Regions from separate parts of the Homo sapiens genome. Here region 1 is linked to region 2. The links come from fine-mapping of genetic effects on gene expression. A gene starts in region 2. The other region holds a variant in brackets. All regions are shown on one strand. Distances are between the middles of the regions. Region 1 overlaps PDPR (pyruvate dehydrogenase phosphatase regulatory subunit). Region 2 holds the start of PDPR (pyruvate dehydrogenase phosphatase regulatory subunit).

Region 1 (9,611 bases), 46 kb before region 2:
GACCCACCACAACAATCTGGGATTCTGAGCTGCTTGAGTCAGGTGACACCCCAGATCTAAGCATCTGAAGGTCCCTAACTGTGGAGCCTTTCATGAGAACAAGCCACTGGAGGGTAAGCACACGTCGCTCTTCTCAGGGGAGGGTGTACTAAAGGAGCCTCATCTCACTCCCCCTGTGCCATGAAGGCCACACCAGGTGAGCACCCTTGGGAGGGAGACGCATAGCCTGACTGGGGTGCTAATGGGTCCCGGCACTGGGTTCTCCACATGAACAGTTGTGTGAATCCAGGAGGCTCAGATCACGTGCCACAGCGCCACCTACTGGCCTGCGAACAACAACATCGTCCTGTTGTAAAGTCGGCAAACAATCATTTAAAAATTTTCAGGCCGGGCGCGGTGGCTCACGCCTGTAATCCCAGCACTTTGGGAGGCTGAGGTGGGCAGATCATAAGGTCAGGAGATCGAGACCATGCTGGTCAACATGGTGAAACCCGGTATCTACTAAAAATACAAAAAATTAGCTGGGCGTGGTGGCGTGTGCCTGTAATCCCAGCTACTCGGGAGGCTGAGGTGGGAGAATCCCTTGAACCAGGGAGTCAGAGGTTGCAGTGAGCCGAGATCACGCCACTACACTCCAGCCTGGCGACAAAGCAAGACTCTATCTCAACAAGAAAAAAAAATCAAACATTTAAAATCCTTAAATCTTTTTTTCTTTTTGAGACAGAGTTTCGCTCTTGTTGCCCAGGCTGGAGTGCAATGGCGTGATCTCGGCTCACTGCAACCTCCACCTCCTGAGTTCAAGCGATTGTCCTGCCTCAGCCTCCCGCGAAGCTGGGATTATAGGCATGCGCTACCACGCCTAATTTTGTATTTTTAGTAGAGACAAGGTTTCTCCATGTTGGTCAGGCTGGTCTCGAATTCCCAACCTCAGGTGATCCGCCCGCCTCGGCATTCCAAAGTGCTGGGATTACAGGTGTGAGCCACCGCACCTGGCCTAAAATCCTTAAATCTTAAAAGACATTTTAAAGATTTTGCCCTCCACTTTTTGCCCATTCATTTAATCATCTGTTAAACACCAAACACCATGTGAGGTGTTGGAGTTTGGGAGAATTCGAGTCTTTCTCCGAGGGACTTACAGAAGGAGCAGGGCAGATAACCAAATAAAGACACATCAGAAACGGGTGTGTGAGGACCCCAAAGGGGCCATTCTCTTGGGGAAGGAAAGGCTCCACTGTGGGATGATGGTGGTCTTGGGCAGAGCTTTTGAAAGACAGGAGGGGCCAGGCACTGTGGCTCACACCTGTAATCCCAGCACTTTGGGAGGCTGAGGTGGGTTGATCACCTGAGGTCAGGAGTTCGAGACCAGCCTGACCAATGACCACCATAGTGAAACCTCGTCTCTACTAAAAATACAAAATTAGCCAGGCATGGTGGCGCATGCCTGTTATCCCAGCTACTCAGGAGGCTGAGGCAGAATTGCTTGAACCTGGGAGGCGGAGGTTGTGGTGAGCCGAGATCTCGCCACTGCACTCCAGCAGCCTAAGCAAGAAGAACAAAACTCCGTCTCAATCAATCAATCAAATGAAAGACAGGAGGTCTCTGTCAGGACAACTTGGGGGAGTGGGGGTCCATGTGATCCTCAATTTGCGACTTTCCACAAGCACAGGGGAGGGCTGCCAGGAGGCATTTTAGTGAGCAAATATGGGAGTGGGAGACCTCTCAGTGTGACTGGAAAGCAGGATTCGAGGTGAGATCCAGCTGTGGATGGCGAGCACGCACTCGGCTGCAGGACCCACATCACACGCAGCGCAGGCCGGAGCCCTGGGGCAGCGTGGCCTGCCACACCCTGGAGACCCTGGCTGGCCAGGCTAAGGACTGAGAGCTTTGTCTCACGACAAAGGGGAGTCCCTTGAGGGTTTCAAGGCAGTGAGTAAATTGACCTCCCCTGTTTTACAAAGACAACCCTGCAGAGGGAGGGGGGATGACATGAGAAGCAGGAAAATCAGTAAGAGATTGTTCTCGAAGTCAGGGCTGACAACCCTCTCTGCCACAGCAGCAGTGGTGGGGACAGTGAGGTCCGAACAGAGGAGAGGCACTGAGGAGACAGCCCTGTGAGGCTGGGTAATGAGCGGGAGGTGTAGGGAGAGGCGAGTGGGGAGACCAGGTGAGTCCCAGGTTTCTGGCGTGGTTGACTATTCCTGGAACTGGAATAGAAGGGGCTGATTTAGAAGACAAGATGAAGAGATTGTTGTAAACATGTTAACCTATGAGATTCTCAAAAGTACAAATACTTAAAAAAAAAAAAACTACTCAAAAATTACTTTGGGCCAGGCACAGTGGCTCACGCCTGTAATCCCAGCACTTTGGGAGGCCAAGGTGGGTGGATCACTTGAGGTTGGGGGTTTGAGACCAGCCTGGCCAACCTGGCGAAACCCCGTCTCTACGAAAATACAAAAATTAGCTGGGCATGGTGGCGCGTGCCTGTAATCCCAGCTACTCTGGAGGCTAAGGCAGGAAATCACTTGAACCTGGGAGTGGAGGTTGCAGTAAGCCAAGATCACACCACTGTACTCCAGCCTGGGCAAAAGAGCAAGACTCTGCCTCAAAAAAAAAAATTAGTGAACAGGTCAAGTCCAGGGACCAACTTGTGGATGGAAGCTGGTGTAGAAAAAGAGCACTGGTTGTTTCTCTCAGGGTTGTTTCCACAGGGTGAGAACACGACCCCCCTTGCTTTCCACACAAACCTGAGTGCACACGTGCCCGTGTGGAACATCAGGTGGCAGGTTCCTCCTGAGGTCAGCTGTAGGCAGAAGGCCGGTCGGAATTTCAGGAGGCGGGAAGCTTTTACCCCCAGCCACTCCAGCGCTGCAGGGAGGGTAAGATAAACACCTACATCTTCTCTACCCCCGTCCCCAAATCCTCCCTCACACTGGTACACACAGGGAGGTACACACTCTCCTCTGCACGCTGTTTATGCTTTGTGGTGGCAAACACATTTAAGTCACTACAGATGAAGAACATTTCACAAGCAGCCGTGCAAGAGTAGTTAAAATGTGTTTATTCATTTACAAACCCAGTAACATGAGAAGAAACTCAGTGGAAACCTTGCTTGGTGGAGACAGTGCACAGTGTTAGTGCCACATTCACAGGGGCAGAAATGCTCGGTCACCCTGTGCACCCAAAGTCACCCAGGATCTCTAGAAAAGATCCCACTTACTGAAGTGCCTCGGATGTCTTCAGGGCCAGATTGTAACTACACAGGAACAGGGAAGGGCTAAGCTGAACTGCAAATTGACAAACACAAACGATGAGTCACAGGACTCTACAGTAGTTACAATGGCATTTTTATATGTCCCAAGTGTTGACTGGAGAGTAAAGTGTTAACTGAGCTGCTAGAACACCCTTCACTGAAAGAGCTTTCTACCCCACGCCCATTGTTCCGAAGAAGGAGAGGCTATGTGGGGCGGATGGGAACCCACACACCGAGATGAACTTTTCTCTTTCTTCCAATCTGCACCCACCATCTGACATTCTGGAGTGTAAGGCACTAGAACCTGGCTTAGAGAATAGTGGGGCTCTAAGCTCCAGTTCTTGGTGTGCAAAGGAAATTCTGACATACATCTTTTGAAAGAGATGCTAAAAAACCCTCCCTATCTCCTGTAATTTCTGTCTTTGACAGACAGGAAAATAAGAAGGCAGAAGATGGTCTGCAAAGGATAAAAACAGGTGCATCTAAGAATGAGAAAAATGGCTCATGAAGAAATGTGTAACTCTCCAAGAGATGCAGACACTCTGCTCAGAGAAGTCAAGAACCATAAACAACTCTTCATGTTTCATGGACAAAGGGAAGGCAAAGGCATACAAAAATACTCAGTTGTCTTGAAAAGTGTACTGGTAGTGATCAGGGCTACAAAGGCGAGCCCTGTACTGACAATGGAGGAGCCTTACAACTCAGCACCTTAAATTGTTGGCCTGAAGTGGTGGCGGGGAGGGAGGCGCTGACGGAGAGACCCATGGCTCACCACTTATTGCGTGTACACAAGGCCTGGGGCAAGCCTCACAAGTCTACCATTTCTTCCACTCAACTGTGCTTCTCCTGAATCCATGTGCCTGAAATGACATATGCAAGGTGAACATTCTTTATACTGTGTTAATACTGCTTATATCAATGTTCGTGAGGGGTGTGTGGGGGATGGGGTGCAGCAGGAAAATTAGAATGGCAGGAGGTTCTTATTTATTATTAAGCACTGTTGACCAAACCTCTATCTTAGATTTTTTTTTTTTTTTTTTTGAGACAAGAGTCTCACTCTGTTACCCAGGCTGGAGTGCAGTGGTGCAATCTCAGCTCACTGCAACCTCTGCCTCCTGGGTTCAAGCAATTCTCCCACCTCACTGGGCCTCCCAAAGTGCTGGGATTACAGGAGTAAGCGACCACGCCCGGCCAACCAAACCTCTATCTTAGATGTTAAAGAAGACCCTTATTGACTACACTGGCCAAGAAGCAACAGAGATATAAAGCTGAATCTTGTAGCTAACCCCTGAAAGCAAGCCAACGCAAATTCCTCCGCCAGGCCAGTCTTCTAGTGCCAATATGGAGACTGTGGGCCACAGAAGATTCCCTTCTATTTCAGGTTCTCAAAAAGTGGTGTAGACTCAGGCAAATGCCAGGAAATGTGTCCATATGCCAGAGGAGACACAGAGCCAGAAATGAAGGCTATGGGTCCTGTCTTCAGTGAAACACTGAACGCTCTCGGAAAGCTCCCATCATTCTTGCATCGCTACTGCCACCAAGACGGTGGCAAGGGAGGAGGCTAACTTTCAAATGCATGCAACGGCAGGTAATATACTGTGGAAGCTGGAGGTTTACTTTTCATGTTTTAGTTACTTTCTTGCAAACAGCAGTCCAGGAAAGCAAGCAAGCAGGTAAAACTCCGGGTGTGCATGAGGAGATGATCCAAGGCCAGTGGGCCTCCCAGTGAGAACCAAACAGGAGTGGCCAGGCTCCACTCCTGGGGCCAGAGTGAAACCGGGGTTTAATCACTGGGCTATGTGGTCTCTGTGTCTCTGGCCTGAATGAGATCTCTTCAATGTCGGGGGACAGGGATCCCTGGAAGAGCGTGAAAAATACAGTGGTCACTGTGCAGTTCTCTCTGCTGGAGCCTGTCCTGCCATCATACAAGGTGCTGTGACAGCAATGCAAGGTGAAAGGAGATCAAATGGCCCAGCTCAGCAGTTAGTGTTTGTCCCTTTTTGCTCTTCAGAGTTCCTGAATGAGAGCTTTTCTGGCTTCAGTACCAATGATCACAGAAGGAACATCTTCCTGATGCAAGCTTAGATGGAAGTCAATGACCCTGGCAGTGCTAAGAACAGAAGTCACACGTGGCCTGACGATGAAGGGGAGGTAATTAAAGACATTTCAAGGGAGGGGAAGGCCCACGGAAAACTGGCAACCCTGGGTCTCCGTTTGAGGCCAATATACTTTGTGTTCCTAGGTTCAGATGGCATACACCGACAAGAGAAGGCAGAGACCATCCTTCGTGGTGAGCACAAAATGCTATGACAGGTAATTGCAGAGAGAAAAAAGCACCCAACTCTGTAAAGCCAAGTCCAGTCACCCATTCACAAGAGTCCAAAATCCTTCAAATCTCTAGGGACAGAAGACAAACGTGCTGCCCAGAATGAGCTGAGACACAAGGCAAACCCTTGGAAATGACACATGGATGAGGAGGCTGTGGTTGTCCCTCCTTATTCCTGCTGGATTTGCAGCCACGGCTCTGGATCTGGGGCATCTACTGGCCTCCCCTGTTCACTCAAGAGGCCACTGCCTCTCAGGAGTCCAGAATGCTCTGATATCTGACACCGGTGGTCAGGAAGTTATGCTGCCCTCTCCTCTTGAACAGCTAAGATGCTTGGACACTAGACAGAGGCAAAGCAGTTATGCCAGAAGCAGGGGAGAGTCATTCACTGTCAGATCTGTCTGTTCAAAGAGCTCACATTAGAC[C/G]AATCACAGAAAACCACCAGACTCACACAGCTTGTATTTGAATGAACCAGGAGAGACTTCAAGGATCAACTCTAAAGTGCTAGAAGAGAAATCTGTGTTTGGGGCACTGAATAAACAAGTGATGTCCTAGAAGATCAACACCCCATCAGTCTTAGGAGTATGACCCTATTCATGGACAAGGGGTTTCAATGGACAGCCTGAGTGCTCAGCCCCCCATCCTCCTCTCCTAGCAAGACAAGCAGTCTGTTGCTCAGAGGGGGAAACTGATGTCATTTAACAGGAGGTCAGGATTTCTGGTTCTACTTCAACAAACAGTGCATAATTTTGGACACAGCATCAGATTTCCTGACTTCTTACAAAGGACAGCTAATTAAAAACGTGTCAATCTGTAGTAATTAGTTGGAGATTAACAAGGGCAGAAGAGAATCCAAGTCTTAAAACTCTATGTGGGATACATTTCTGATGAAGCTTCTATTTGACTAATATACTGTGATGATGGCACTATTCGATTTTAAACTATGGAGACAGCTTTTATTATTTCGATTTGGATCCTGGTAAGTGGTGATACTGCTATGTAACAGTTAAAGCACAAATGTATTGCCATAGTTAAGGTTGAAGAGTTATGTCTATGTGTAACTAAATTCTTCTGGATTCAATTACAAATACGTTTTCCTTTACAAAGATGGCTTTGGAGGGGTGCAAATGCTACGTGTTTGGAAGAGCAGAGGAGGCCTGCAGCTCTCAGTCACCTGTCTCCATCTTCGGAGGTAAGTCTGCTCCCTGCTGGTAATGCCTGCATCTGCCCAAGGGCCTGTTCCTCCTCTCCCAAGGCCTTCACAGCTGGTGTTCACTGGTTGGCCCTCCAGCCGGCAACACCTCTCCTCCTCTCTGCCTAGAGGCAGCATCTCTCGGCTAGTTAAGTACATACTTGCTCCAAGACAACTAGACCCCCAAACAGAATTCTAATCATATGCTCCTCTAACAAGCCAACCAGAACCTTCCAAAAAGGTTTAGGCACTAAAGTCAGTAATCACTAGGAGTGGTCTAGTTGGGGAAGTGGCAAGAAATGTCTAGAAGGAGCCAGCGTAAGTGGGTAAACAGAGATCCCAAAGAAACACCAGAGAAGGCAGACACCTGAGCATTTTAAGCTGCTCTAATGAAATGGAAGGATGTCCCTTAATACACTTATAGACCTATCAGAGCTAATGCTTCCAAGATACCAACACGCCAAAGGCTAGAGTTTTACTAACCAAAATGTCTTATAGCAGTTTATTTGCACTTAAAAAAAGTCAGATTAGGGCAGTTGATATGCAAGGGGAAAATGAAGCATTGAGGCTGGACAACAGTCCATGATATCTAAGTTTCACCTTGGGAAAACAGAGACACTGCCTGAAAGCGCAGGGCACTTCTGGGCACCCACATTGTCTCCTGCTCCAGAGGATATGGAAGGGTGGGTGGAGGGAAACAAAGAGCCTGGGGGGAAAGGAGGAAAAGCGGTCTCTAGCCTTATGCAACGTACACCCTTTGGACTCAGAACTCTCAGTGGACTAACGTGGGTCACCTCTGTGTAGCTCTGCTCTGTGCTGGAGAGTCAAACCTGGAATTCCGGCAGCTCTCTGGAACTCAGCACAGCCCGCAAGGTTGAAAGGCCCAGGACAACACACCTGATCCCTTCCCCTCCCTATTCTAAAGGGAGAGAAACATGACTTTATGGGCCAACTGTGAAAGGGACAAGTGAGGCTGACCTGACAAAGTCAAACGCACTGGGAGAAGGGGAAGGAGGAACGGCTGAACTTTGGACAGCTGAGAGAAAAGCAGCATTGTTTCCATAGCAGAACACTCAGCATCACTGGTGGGGACTTTCTAAGGTCAGACCCTTTTGACTGGGAAAAGCAACACACAAGGCAATATGGTTTTTCCCTTTCAAACACTGTGGCTTACTTGTTTACTCAACTAAGAAAGAAAAAGCAACCTTATTATAGAGATTAGCAAGAGATGAAGAAAATTATAGGGAGGCTGCCCTGGCCCAAAGGTCTGCTAATGGCTTCTGCAGGGAGGATGAGGATGGTGCTAGGTTAACTGCTTGTCTCCACTACAGACCAGAGAACGTCCATGCGATGCCTCTTATCAGTGAGGTAGATAATCATCCTCTTGCCAGAGGTATCGAGTGCCAGCCCACAGCACAGCAGAACAGGAGAACGAGCTGCCGGGCTGCAGGCACGAGCTGCCCCTCAGGGCTGCATCCGACACACGGCAACCCCACCAGAACTAATAGGCTGCTCCAAGAAAATGGAACCCAAGGGAGAGGGACTCGTGCCCTGAGACCTGCACCACCCCGGCTTGCCCTGCCTTGAGATGCAGAATTTGAAAGCAGCTGTCACCATCACTCATGTCCACAGTGGAGCTTGCTTCTGTCCTGTCAGACATACCTCCTGCCACCACGAGAAGCTGAGTGAGGGGTGGGAAGGGAAGAAGAGCCCAGAGTGAATATTAGGAGGAGGAGGTGGAAGGGCAAGGAAGGCTGCAGAGCAAAAAAGTTTAAAGTAGGTCAAGTTCAAAATTATATCAAGGAGATAAGAGATGGGAGGCAAAGGCTCCAGAAGAGGAACAGAGGCGGAAGGAAGAGAAGCTCCAAGGTGACGCCCACTCTAGGACAAGATGATGGGGAGGAGGTGAGGCTGCCCTGGTGGCATCACTTCCCATGTAAGTCACTCAGCTCCATGTCATCCTTTCGGCGCTTCTGGGTGAAGAGGGAGGCGACAGGGTAGAGCTTGGCCTTGGCCTGGAAGCGGTATCCCGCGATGTCAATCTCATACTCTCCCCGGTTGATGAAATCTGCTGTCACCACTTGCTCTTCCCCCGTGTCCTCAGAAAAATTGTGCACAAAGCCCAGGCAAACGTGGCGCTCCAGGCTGTAGCTGTAGGCACTGCTGGTGGTCTTGCCAACATACTGCCCATTCCGGTAAATGGGCTCTCCCCACCAAGGCCAAAGGTCTAGGTCTGAATCATGGTCGTCCAGGATGAACATGGTGAGGCGTTTATACACTCCATTCTGCTTCTGCTGCAGGAGGGCGTCGCGACCAATGAAATCCATGCCCTAAGAAAGAAAGGAAACGCCGAGTCATCCAGCGACACTCAGACCCTCGGCACAGAGAGCAGCACCGTGGGAAGGGTCCCCTGGTGTCACTGCAATGGGGCACAGCCGCCTCCTCCCACAACCCTGCCAGCTTTTGGGAAACTGTGCGATTTCTACCATGTGAAAAACTGCATGTGAAATATAAAAGACGCCGCGGTAATTTTTGTAACAACAGAGGTACGCATTTTGTTTCCTATTTTATAAACATAAAGTCACAAGACCAGATAGAACAAAAACGTTTAGGAAGAAAACTCACTCACTTAATAAAATACCTTATCAGTCCAGTACTTTAGAAAAATGTTTTTATATTGGCCAGTCGTGGTGGCTCACGCCTTGAACAGAGATGAGGCAAACCTCATCTCTACTAAAAATACAAAAATAAGCTGGGTGTGGTGGAGTGTGCCTATAGTTCTAGCTACTTGGGAGGCTGAGACAGGAAAATCACTTGAACCTGGGAGGCAGAGGCTGCAGTGA
Region 2 (11,056 bases):
CTTTGTCTTCCAACAATCGACAGCAACCGGTAGAACATCATGTCTCTCACCAACTAGATCTCAGGAACTCAAACTAGACAGAGAAACCAAACATATTTCATGCCATTCTACTCAGTGCATGGGATTAATGAGAAAGGGATTTGACAAAGAACGATAGCCATTCATTCAGCAAATATTTGAGGGTGGCTGGGCATGGTGCCTCACACCTGTAATCCCAGCACTCTGGGAGGCCAAGGCGGGCGGATCACGAGGTCAGGAGATCGAGACCATCCTGGCTAACACAGTGAAACCCCGTCTCTACTAAAAATTCAAAAACTTAGGCTGGGCGCAGTGGCTCACACCTGTAATCCCAGCACTTTGGGAGGCCGCGGCGAGTGGATAACGAGGTCAGGGGTTCGAGACCAGTCTTACCAACATGGTGAAACCCTGTCTCTACTAAAAACACAAAAATTAGCTGGGCATGGTGGCAGGTGCCTGTAATCCCAGCTACTCAGGAGGCTGAGGCAGGAGAATTGCTTGAACCCGGGAGGCGGAGGCTGCAGCGAGCAGAGATCGCGCCACCGCACTCCAGCCTGGGCGACAGAGCGAGACTCCGTCTCAAAAAAAAAACAAACAAACAAACAAAAAAAAAACAAAAAAAGAAATATTTGAGGGCATTCTGAGTTTCAGATATTCTGCTAGCAGTGAACAAGAATGGGGAAGTCCCTGTCTTTATGAAATTTACATTTGAGAGTTTGCGTGTGTGAATGAGGAGAACACCAATCAATATACAAATAAACATACAAATAAAACAGTAAATAAAGCTAACATGATAGAGTAACTAGGGGCATATTTAAAACAGGATGGTCAGAAACAGCCTCCAAGGAAGTGACATTTGGAAACAGACCTGAAGGATAAGGAACGAGCTATACATTTGGCAGACACTGAGACGAGCATGTGCAAAAGCCCTGAGGTAAGACAGACCAAGAACAAAAAGGAGGCCGGCATGTACACGACACGGGGAGTGTGGGGAGATGATCTAAGACAATGCTGGAGAGGCAGGCGGAAGCCAGTTACACACAGCCCTTGGGTGCCATCAGCAGGAGTTGGAATTTTATTCAAAGTACAAAGGAAAATCACTCATGCGGGAGTATCACTAGCAGGGGAATGAAATGATCTGGGATGTTTTTCTTTTCTTTGTTTTTTTTGGCGGTGGGGGGTTGGGGGATGTTTTCCAAAGGTCAGTCTGGCTCCATGGTGGAGAGCGGATGGTAGAATTATAAGAAAAACAGAGTTGACTTCCTAGGCTCAAGTGATCCTCCCACCTTGGTCTCCCAAAGTGTTGAGATTACAGGCATGAACCACTGCCCTTGGACAAGGCAGGGTTTTAACAAACTTAATCTATCAGCAAAACAGATGACTGTTCAAGTTTCAAGAAACTGAAGAAGAAAGCACCTACTGGCTGTCCATGCAGTCATGTGTACAGGAGGATGAGGACTTTGAGACGAGAGGCGGTAGACAAGGGGGCCTTAGGGTAGCTCACTGCTAGTCATCTCCTTACCGCCTCCACTGCCAGCCACAGGACCCACAGATGCTCCACAGTCAGCACAAATTGTCCAAGGCCAAGGTATCTATGTCCATCCATCAGAGATGACTCTCAGAATTGCAACCAATGCAAGCACAGACTGTGTCCAGGCAGACATCCCATCCAACTGGAGACAAATTGTCTTGGCCACCTTGTGGTTGCCACCATGCCTCTCATCCCTGGTCCCTGTTAAGCACCATCTCAAAACAGAAGCTTCTCTACCCGGCTAGTCTTTCCATAATCTCATCTCCACGTGACCAATTTATTTCCCGTGGCCCAAGCTCTCTTTGCTTTCCTCTCCTTCAAGCCCCTCTACTGCACCCTCCAGAATACCTTTCCCAAAGGTAAACACCCACCCCTTTGCTGACATTCTCTCTACCCTCTGTCCCAATGGCAACACAGCTCTCCTGGGGAACTGCTGCTGCCAAATGGCCAGCCCCGTCCCATTGACCTCACTGTCAACCTCCTGGCTTCTGACCCGTGACCACTCGGTTATACTTGAAAACTGTCCTGCTCCTTGGTGGCTTAGGCTAGCACATGTTAAGCCACAGGCAGACCTCTGTCTGTATTCAGGTTCAGAGCCCAGCTATTCCTCTCTCAACCTTCAATTTCACCTCCTTTCTTCCCTCATTCTAAGCAGATAACCTGGCTCATCTCATTCCCTGAAACCCTTCCTATAGACCCACTTGCATCTGCAACCATCTCTTCCTTCCTTCTTTTATCCACTGGAAAGTTAATCTCCCCCAAGGGCCCTGGATCCCACTTCCTCCTCTCTTCTCTTGACCCTAGCTCCATCAACTGCTATCTCTCTTTCATGTACCTGCAACGTTTCCCTCCCTTTTTGCTGCTTTTCCTCAGCAATTTTTTTTTTTTTTTTGAGACAGAGTCTCACTCTGTCGCCCAGCTGGGAGTGCAGCGGTGTGATCTCGGCTCACTGCAACCTCTGCATCCCAGGTTCAAGCAATTCTCCTGCCTCGGCCTCCTGAACAGCTGGAACTACAAGCACGCGCCACCACGCCCAGTTACTTTTTGTATTTTTAGTACAGACAGGGTTTCACCATGTTGATTAGGCTGGTCTTGAACTCCTGACCTCAGGTGATCCACTGGCCTTGGCCTCCCAAAGTGCTGGGATTATAGGCGTGAACCACCACACCCACCTTAATGACTTTCTGATGCCCTCAGGAAAAAGGCAAAACTCTTTTCATATCAAGTGCAAGATCCTTCACACTCTGGTTCTTATCTGTGGTCTCATTTCTCCTTTCCTCACACTCTGACCAAACCAGACTGAACAACCTGTAATTCGTCAAACATATCAGGTGAGGCGTGAGTGTTCTATTCGGCTCCAGGTTCTGTGCATGCTGTTCCCTCCTGGCATGGTTCCTGCCACCTCTCCCCCAAATACAGGTAATCTCCTCAGGTCACAGCCTCTTTGACATCTTATTTATTTTTTTTGAGATGGAGTCTCGCTCTGTCGCCCAGGCTGGAGTGCAGTGGTGCGATCTCAGCTCACTGCAAGCTCTGCCTCCTGGGTTGATGCCATTCTCCTGCCTCAGCCTCCTGAGTAGCTGGGACTACAGGCACCCACCACCATGCCTGGCTAATTTTTTTTTTTAATTTTTAGGAGAGACGGGGTTTCACCATGTTAGCCAGGATGGTCTCAATCTCCCGACCTCGTGATCCGCCTGCCTTGGCCTCCCAAAGTGCTGGGATTACAGGCATGAGCCACTGTGACCGGCAAATAATTTTTAAAGCTAATATTTTTATAAGTAGTTACAATGCACCAGATACTGCCTATATATATAACTAATTTAATCCTCACAACCTTATGAGGTAGATACTAGCATTTCTATTCTACACTTGAGGAAACAGGCACAGATAAGTGGAAGTGACTCACCCAAGGTCCTACCAAACTGTTGAGTAGCAGAACCCTGCCAATTTGGCATTAGTGGCCGGCTATTTAATCATGACTCCACGCTACCTTTCAAATAAAAGCAGATGGTAAGGAAAGGACAGCTGTGAGGACTGAACCATTAAGCACATTCCCCTAACAGAGAAAGGGAATTGCAAAGGTGGCAGAACAAACACAGTAACAGATGAGTTTTAAGGTGGAATTAAAAAAAAAACTTTAGGCCGGGCGCCATGTCTCACGCCTGTTATCTCAGCACTTTGGGAGGCCGAGGCGGGTAGATCATTTGAGGTCGGAAGTTGGAGACCAGCCTGGCAAACATGGTGAAACCCCGTCTCTACCAAAGATACAAAAAATTAGCTGGGTGTGGTGGCACGCACCTGTGGTCCCAGGTACTCATGGTGCGGCCACCATTGCATCTTGGGCCTCACTAACCAGTTCCCGTTTGTTGGATTCAATACTCTCTCACCACACAGGCCAATCTTGTGTTTTATTAATTTTTTTAATTTTTTTTTTTTTTTTGTAGAGAGGGGCTCACTATGTTGCCCAGGCTGGTCCTGAACTCCTGAGGTAGGAGGATCGCTTGAGCCTGGGAGACAGAGGTTGCAGTGAGCCGAGATTATGCTACTGCACTCCTGCCTGGGTGACACAGTGAGACTCTGTCTTAAACAAAACAAAACAAAGAAAGGCCAGGCGCAGGGGCTCACACCTGTAATCCTAGCACTTTGGGAGGCCAAGGTGGGTGGATTATTTGAGGTCAGGAGTTTGAGACCAGCCTGATCAGCATGGTGAAACCCCGTCTCTACTAAAAACAGAAAAATTAGCCAGGTGTCGTGGCTTGCACCTGTAGTCCCAGCTACTCAGGAGGCTGAGACAGGAAAATTGCTTCAACCAGGGAGATGGAGGCTGCAGTGGGCAGATTCGCGCCACTGCCTGGGTGACACAGTGAGACTCCATCTCAAAAAAGCCCAGGGTGCTTGGCGCCAAAAAAGGGATCTCTGACCTTGTGTTCATTATGACCTTCAAAAGAGTGAAGTGGTGAGGGCATGAGGGCAGAGGAAAAGAAGGGCTTAAGACAACGAAGGAAAAGAAGGCACCAGAGTCTAGTGCCTTTGCCGCCAAACCTAAACCTATAAGGTTGGCAGCAAAACCAAAGCACAAACTGATAACAAAGGAGGTAAAGCCAGGGGAGAAGAAACTGAAGACGTCAAAGACAGAAATGAAGCACATCATCTGGTTTAAAACAAATGATAGAGTTTTTACAGTTCTGGAAAATGACCGTATAATATTCTCTGCTAAGAAGAATAACTTCTGCTAAACAACCATAAGACTGCAGCTGGCTCTACTCAGATCTGCTTATTCCAACAAGACCAAGGTGCTAGTTCTAACTTCGAGTTGTCCCTCTGTATGGCTGCAGCGTTGCGCACAGTGGACTGCCGGTCACAAGGAAGACTGGATGAGCGTGGGTTCACACAACATTTCCCACACTTGCCTCAGCAAAAGAACCACCTGGGACACTTGTTTAAAAATGACAGATTCCCACGGTCCACCTCGGCAGATTCTGATCCTGCCACTCCAGGGAGCTGTATTTTTCAACAAGTACACCAGGTGATCACGCAAGTTTAAGAAATTAACACAAGTTGGCCGAGCGCAGTGGCTCACGCCTGTAATCCCAGCACTTTGGGAGGCTGAGGCGGGAGAATCACGAGGTCAGGAGTTCGAGACCAGCCTGGCCAACATAGTGAAACCCCGTCTCTACTAAAAACACAAAAATTAGCCGGGCGTGGTGGCGCACACCTGTATTCCCAGCTACTTGGGAGGCTGAGGCAGGAGAATTGCTTGAACCCAGGAGGCAGAGGTTGCAGTGAGCCGAGATCGCGCCACTGCACTCCCGCCTGGGCGACAGAGTGAAACTCTGTCTCGGAAAAAAGAAAAAAAAAGAAAAAAGAAATTAACACAAGTCCCTGCCACTGGAAAAGCTTATCCGTCAGGCTGGCTCCTCCTCCACCACCAGACCCCATCCCGGTACATCACGTTTACATGCATGCGGAAAATGGGCTTGGAGATTCTTGATTCAAATCCGAGGTATCACACATCGGCCCCCAAAGGTCAAACATTAAGAAGGAAGCTTACTGCCCTGTCCCAGATTTTTCTAGGTGACTTCTTCCTCCGGACTCTGCAGCAGTCTTTAGTTCTAAAAGCACAAGCGGACCGCACGTCTCAACGCGGGAAAACAGTTCCATCTGCAGGGATGGAGGACCGGGCTAGACAAGCTGGAGTTGGCTCTGCGCCGCAGGGGTGTGCAAGCCCGAGACGGGGGAGCCCGAGGTCACCCCGGCCGCCCTGGCATCGGGGCTGAAGTGCAGGCTCCTGGAGGAGCGGTGCGCACGCCCAGGGGTAGCCGAGAACACAAGCCAAGGCACGAGCGGACAACCTTACGGGGACGAGTACTGGCGCCCGGACGCGACTTCGCGAGAGGCCAGGCGGAACCCACTGGAAGCGTGAGCTAGCGGGGACCACCCCCGGGCGAAACCAAAGGAGAAAGAGGGGAACCCAGGGGTCCCGGGGCGCTTAGGCCCGCGCGGACGGGGAGGCCAGAGTTGCCCCGAAGCTATCTCCTTACCTCACCGGTCCCCACGGGCTCCGCGCTCAGCTACAGCCCGGCGGGAGCAATGCGGCAGCCACAACAGTTGCCTGGGGTCGCCGCGGGCCGGAAAGCGGGGTTCGGGGATGGGAAGGGGGCGGGGCGAAGCGAGCAAAAAGTTCCGGGGAAGCCGAGACCGCGACCTTCCGCGCTTTACGGCCCCCGGGCAAGGGTACTGCCGGCGCGTGACCTCAGCAGCGCACGAGCGCGCCGTGACGCCTTCGCGGAGCCCCGCCCCTGCCACGTGGGCTTGTTTGGGTCTCGCGAGGCACCGCCCCCGCGGCCTCTTTGCCACCCTCAGAGGCGAGCTGTGGAAGCCTTGACTCTTAGGGCCGTTTTAGAACCGGGGCCTCGGACCGGCGGGGTTTCTGCACGTGGAACCGGAACATCTGAGATGATCGCAGGCCCTGTGGAGTGTGGGGAGCGCGGGAGTTCTTTCTTCCCTCGAGGCCCGTGCCAGGGCTTACTCCAAAGCCAGTGGGTCCCCAGTCCTAAGCCAAGCAGTCCCGGGGGAAAACGCTTCTCATCGCCGTGGGAGCGCGGATCTTGGAAGTGGCTCTGGGCTTTCTTGGGCGAGGCTCTCACAGAGTAGATCGGAAATCCATTCTGCTGGCCCGCCCCACCTCGGAGGACGGACTAACGGACCTGAGTTCCCGGCCCTATCTTACTCTTCTCAGCTTCTCAGCTTGGCTCAGCTCAGAGGAAGAGGAATCACTGAAGTCTCAGAGAAGTCTCCACTCATCCCTTCCTCACTGTCACATCAGCCTTTTCTTTCCTTCTAGAACTCATCACTGACTCAAGGATATAAGTTTGATGACTGTCTTTTCCACTGGTGTGACACGATCTCTGTCGACAGAACCTTAGTCTTATGCATAGCTTTATTCTCAGCACCCAGAACAGTGCCTGGCACCTCTTCCACTGAATATTATATGCATAAGGGTCTCATGCTGCAGCCACCATTGCATCTTGGGCCACACTATCCAGTTCCCGTTTGTTGGATTCAATACTGTCTCACCACACAAACCAATCTTGTGTTTTATTAATTTAAAAAAAATTTTTTTTTTGTAGAGATAGGCTCACTATGTTGCCTAGGCTGGGCCTGAACTCCTGGCCTCAAGTGATCCTTCCATCTCAGCCTCCCAAAGTCCTGGGATTACAGGCGTGAGCCACTGTGCCTGCCCCAATCTTGTGTTTTATTGCTGGCCACCTGTAGCCAGGCACTGTGCAGGATGATGGGATCCAGCAATGTACAAGAAAGAGGCGGTTTCTGCTCTTAGGGAGTGGCAGTCAAGTTCCAGGGACCCCTCTGTCACAAGGCCAGGCCACAGCCTACATAGTTTATACCCCATTTACTGGCCAGTCAAATCACACAAAGACAGCCCAGATGAGGTCTGCCAGACAGTGGACTGAAACTATGCCATAGGCTCCTGTGCTAGATAAATACTTCCATATTTTAGCTAGGATTGAATGCTTGGGGACACCTACCTGTCTAAAAAAAGAGAAAACGGCTGACCAATTTGAGACATTCTCGGGGAAGGCTTTCCTGATGCCCAGATGTGGCGATTTCATGAAAAATATCACAGGTTTTCCTCATGAACCATTTGGTTCAAGCCATTTCCAGGCACATGAATTTGGGAGAAACCTGGTTGTCTGCAGGAGATGGTGGATGAAATCAAGTGAAATACTTAATGTGTTGATTTCATTCTGTTTACGTGCAGTAAATAGCAAACAAATGGTGTAGATCTGTCCCTGATTTCCTTCTCCATCACCATGATCGGCCTCCACTCCAAAATGCTAAGTCAGGCTGGGTGCGGTGGCTCATGCCTGTAATGCCAGCACTTTGGGAGGCCAAGGCAGTTGGATCACGTGAGGTCAGAAGTTCGAGACCAGCCTGATCAATATGGTGAAACCCCATCTCTACTAAAAAATACAAAAATTAGCTGGGCGTGGTGGCACATGCCTGTAATCCCAGCTACTTTGGGAGGCTGGGACAGGAGAATTGCTTAAACCCAGGAGGCGGAGGTTGCAGTGAGCCAAGATTGTGTCACTGCACTCTAGCCTAGGCGACAGAGCGAGACTGTCTCAAAAAAAAAAAAAAAAGGGAAGTAAGTCCTAAGGCCCCTTTCATTGTCAAAGATGGGTCTTGTCCTTAGTAGGTTCTCATAACCACTGATGCACTATTTTTTCTAGGGGATTGAGTGTTTTTATTTTATTATTATTTTTTAGATGGAGGCTCACTCTGTTGCCCAGGCTGGAGTGCAATGGTGTGGTCTCGGTTCACTGCAACCTCTGCCTCCCAGGTTCAGGGGATTCTCCTACCTCAGCCTCCCCAGTAGCTGGGACTGTACAGGCGTGCGCCACCACGCTGGGCTAATTTTTGTATTTTTATTAGAGACAGGGTTTCGCTATGTTGGCCAGGCTGGTCTCAAACTCCTGACCTCGTGATCTGCCCACCTAGGCCTCCCAAAGTGCTGGAATTACAGGCGTGAGCCACCGCGTCCAGCCTATTTTTATTTTTTGAGATTAGCTCTCACCCTGTCACCCAGGCTGGAGCACAGTGGTGCAATCACGGCTCACTGCAGTCTTAACTTCCTGGGCTCTAGCGATTCTCCCACCTCAGCCTCCCGAATAGCTGAGACCTCAGGCGCGTGCCACCGTCCCCAGCTAACTTTTGTATTTTTTGGTAGAGGTGGGGTTTCACTATGTTGCTGAGGCTGGCATTAAACTCCTGACCTCAAGAGATCCACCTGCCTTGGCCTCCCAATGTGCTGGGATTAGAGGCATGAGCCACCATGTCTTGCCCTAAACAGACGTTTTAATTACGCTTGTCAAGTCCTCTTGTGAAATCTTCATCTGCAGTGACTTGGTAAATGTATTTGCTACCACACAGGATAAACAGTGTACAGACAAACATTTGACATACCTATGTTACCACAGTGTAAGAATGAATTTGGATCTGAGGTCGCTAAGATGCAGGCGTTTATCTTACCTCCCTGCAGCACCGGCATGGCTGTGGGGAAGGCCTCCCTCCTCCCTCTGAAGTTCTTGTCCCCATCAGTAGACTGGACATCTGCCTACAACCGACTTCACAGAAAGGACCTGACACCTGGCATGCTTCTCGTGTGCTTGAGAGCCTGTGTTTGTGTGGAAAGCAGGGATGTTCTCATTCACACCATGGGAAGAGAAGAATGTTGCGAGTAGCAATCAGTACTCTTTTTTTTTTTTTTTTTTTTTTTTTTTTTGTGAGACGGAGTCTTGCTTTGTCACCCAGGCTGGAGTACAGTGGCGCGATCTCAGCTCACTGCAAGCTCTGCCTCCCGGGTTCACGCCATTCTCCTGCATCAGCCTCCTGAGCAGCTGGGACTACAGGCACATGCCACCATGCCCAGCTAATTTTTGTATTTTTAGTAGAGACGGGGTTTCACCATGTTGGCCAGGATGGTCTCGATCTCTTGATCCACTGCGCCCAGCCAGGAACTTCTTTTTTTTTTTTTTTTTTGAGACGGAGTCTTACTGTGTCGCCAGGCTAGACTGCTGTGGTGCGATCTCGGCTCACTGCAACCTCCAACTCCCTGGTTCAAGGGATTCTCCTGCCTCTGCCTCCTGAGCAGCTGGGATTACAGGCGTGTGCCACCACACCCAGCTAAATTTTGTATTTTTAATAGAGATGGGGTTTCACTATGTTGGCCAGGATGGTCTCGATCTCCTGACCTTGTGATCCGCTCGCCTCGGCCTCCCAGAGTGTTGGGATTACAGGCGTGAGCCACTACACCCGGCCTGGAACTTCTCTCTCTTTTTTTTTTTTTTGAGACGGAGTCTCGCTCAGTCACCCAGGCTGGAGTGCAGTGGCACCATCTCGGCTCGCTGCAAGCTCCGTCTCCTGGGTTCACGCCATTCTCCTGCCTCAGCCTCCCGAGTAGCTGGGGCTACAGGCGCCCACCACTATGCCCGGCTAATTTTTTTGTATTTTTAGTAGAGATGGGGTTTCACCATGTTGGCCAGGCTGGTCTTGAACTCCTGACCTCAAGTGATCCGCCTGCCTTGGCCTCCCAAAGTGCTGGGATTAGAGGCATAAGCCACCACACCCAGCCTCACTAGTTTTATTATCCACTGACTCGACTTGCTTGAGACGATTTTACTATGGTGGTTATCAAATGGTAACTTTCTAATTCTGTAATTCCTTCTGTGTTTATTAGCTCAAGGTCTATGGGATGCAGTGTTGATAGGGTTCTGTCTACTTCACTTGCCTCTGTTCCCAGGGCCTAGCTCTCCAAGTCTTTCAACTGAAATCCCGTAGTATACCCCAGGTTCCCTCCTTTTGAGAGATCTTGAAAACTGTCTACTCAGCTCATTGCAACCTCTGCCTCCCAGGCTCAAGCGATTCTCCTTCTTCAGCCTCCTGAGCTGGGATTACAGGCACACGCCACCATGCCTGGCTAATTTTTGTATTTTTAGCAGAGATGGGGTTTCTCCATGTTGGCCAGGTTGGTCTTGAACTCCTAACCTCAAGTGATCCACCCACCTTGGCCTCCCAAAGTGCTGGAATTACTGATTTCTTTCTTTCTTTTTTTTTTTTGAGACAGGGTTTCACTCTGCCGCCCAGGCTGGAATGCAGTGACGCAATCTCAGCTCACTGCAGTGACGCGATCTCAGCTCACTGCGGTGAAGCGATTTGAGCTCACTGCAGCCTCTGTCTCCTCAGTTCTAGCGATTCTCGTGCCGCAGCCTCTCGAGTAGCTGGGATTACAGGCACCCGCCACCATTCCTGGGTAATTTTTTTACTCAGCACTGTGACTCTGCAAAATTCCGCTCTGCTTTAGAGAGGTCTAAGCTTAGTGTTTCAGGTTTGCATCTTGTGTATTCAGATTTCACCAGATGGCTTGAGACCTAGCCATCTATTCGAGGCCATTCAAGCCTCCAAATTTTGTCACTCCGGCTGGTG

What was found. PIP is the estimated chance that this variant, and not a neighbour inherited with it, causes the effect.
Region 1: its variant is fine-mapped to the expression of PDPR in tibial nerve (GTEx, PIP 0.98). The same link has a PIP of 0.9 or more in whole blood.

What each region holds. Positions count from the first base shown.
Region 1 is chr16:70,155,962-70,165,572 of GRCh38, reverse strand. PDPR (pyruvate dehydrogenase phosphatase regulatory subunit) reads right to left here. Exons shown (of 19, transcript NM_017990.5): 19 at 3,036-9,098. The coding sequence ends at 8,694. It overlaps LOC400541 (a long non-coding RNA gene), which reads left to right. Exons shown (of 3, transcript NR_126007.1): 2 at 6,684-6,768; 3 at 9,069-9,233. Among named protein-coding and RNA genes, the nearest start is that of CLEC18C, 13 kb to the left of the region's middle. The variant C/G (reference allele first, on the strand shown) is at 6,002.
Region 2 is chr16:70,109,478-70,120,533 of GRCh38, reverse strand. PDPR (pyruvate dehydrogenase phosphatase regulatory subunit) reads right to left here and starts at 6,202. Exons shown (of 19, transcript NM_017990.5): 1 at 6,094-6,202; 2 at 5,604-5,713; 3 at 1-73. The coding sequence starts at 41. RefSeq lists enhancers at 4,726-5,668, 6,189-6,238.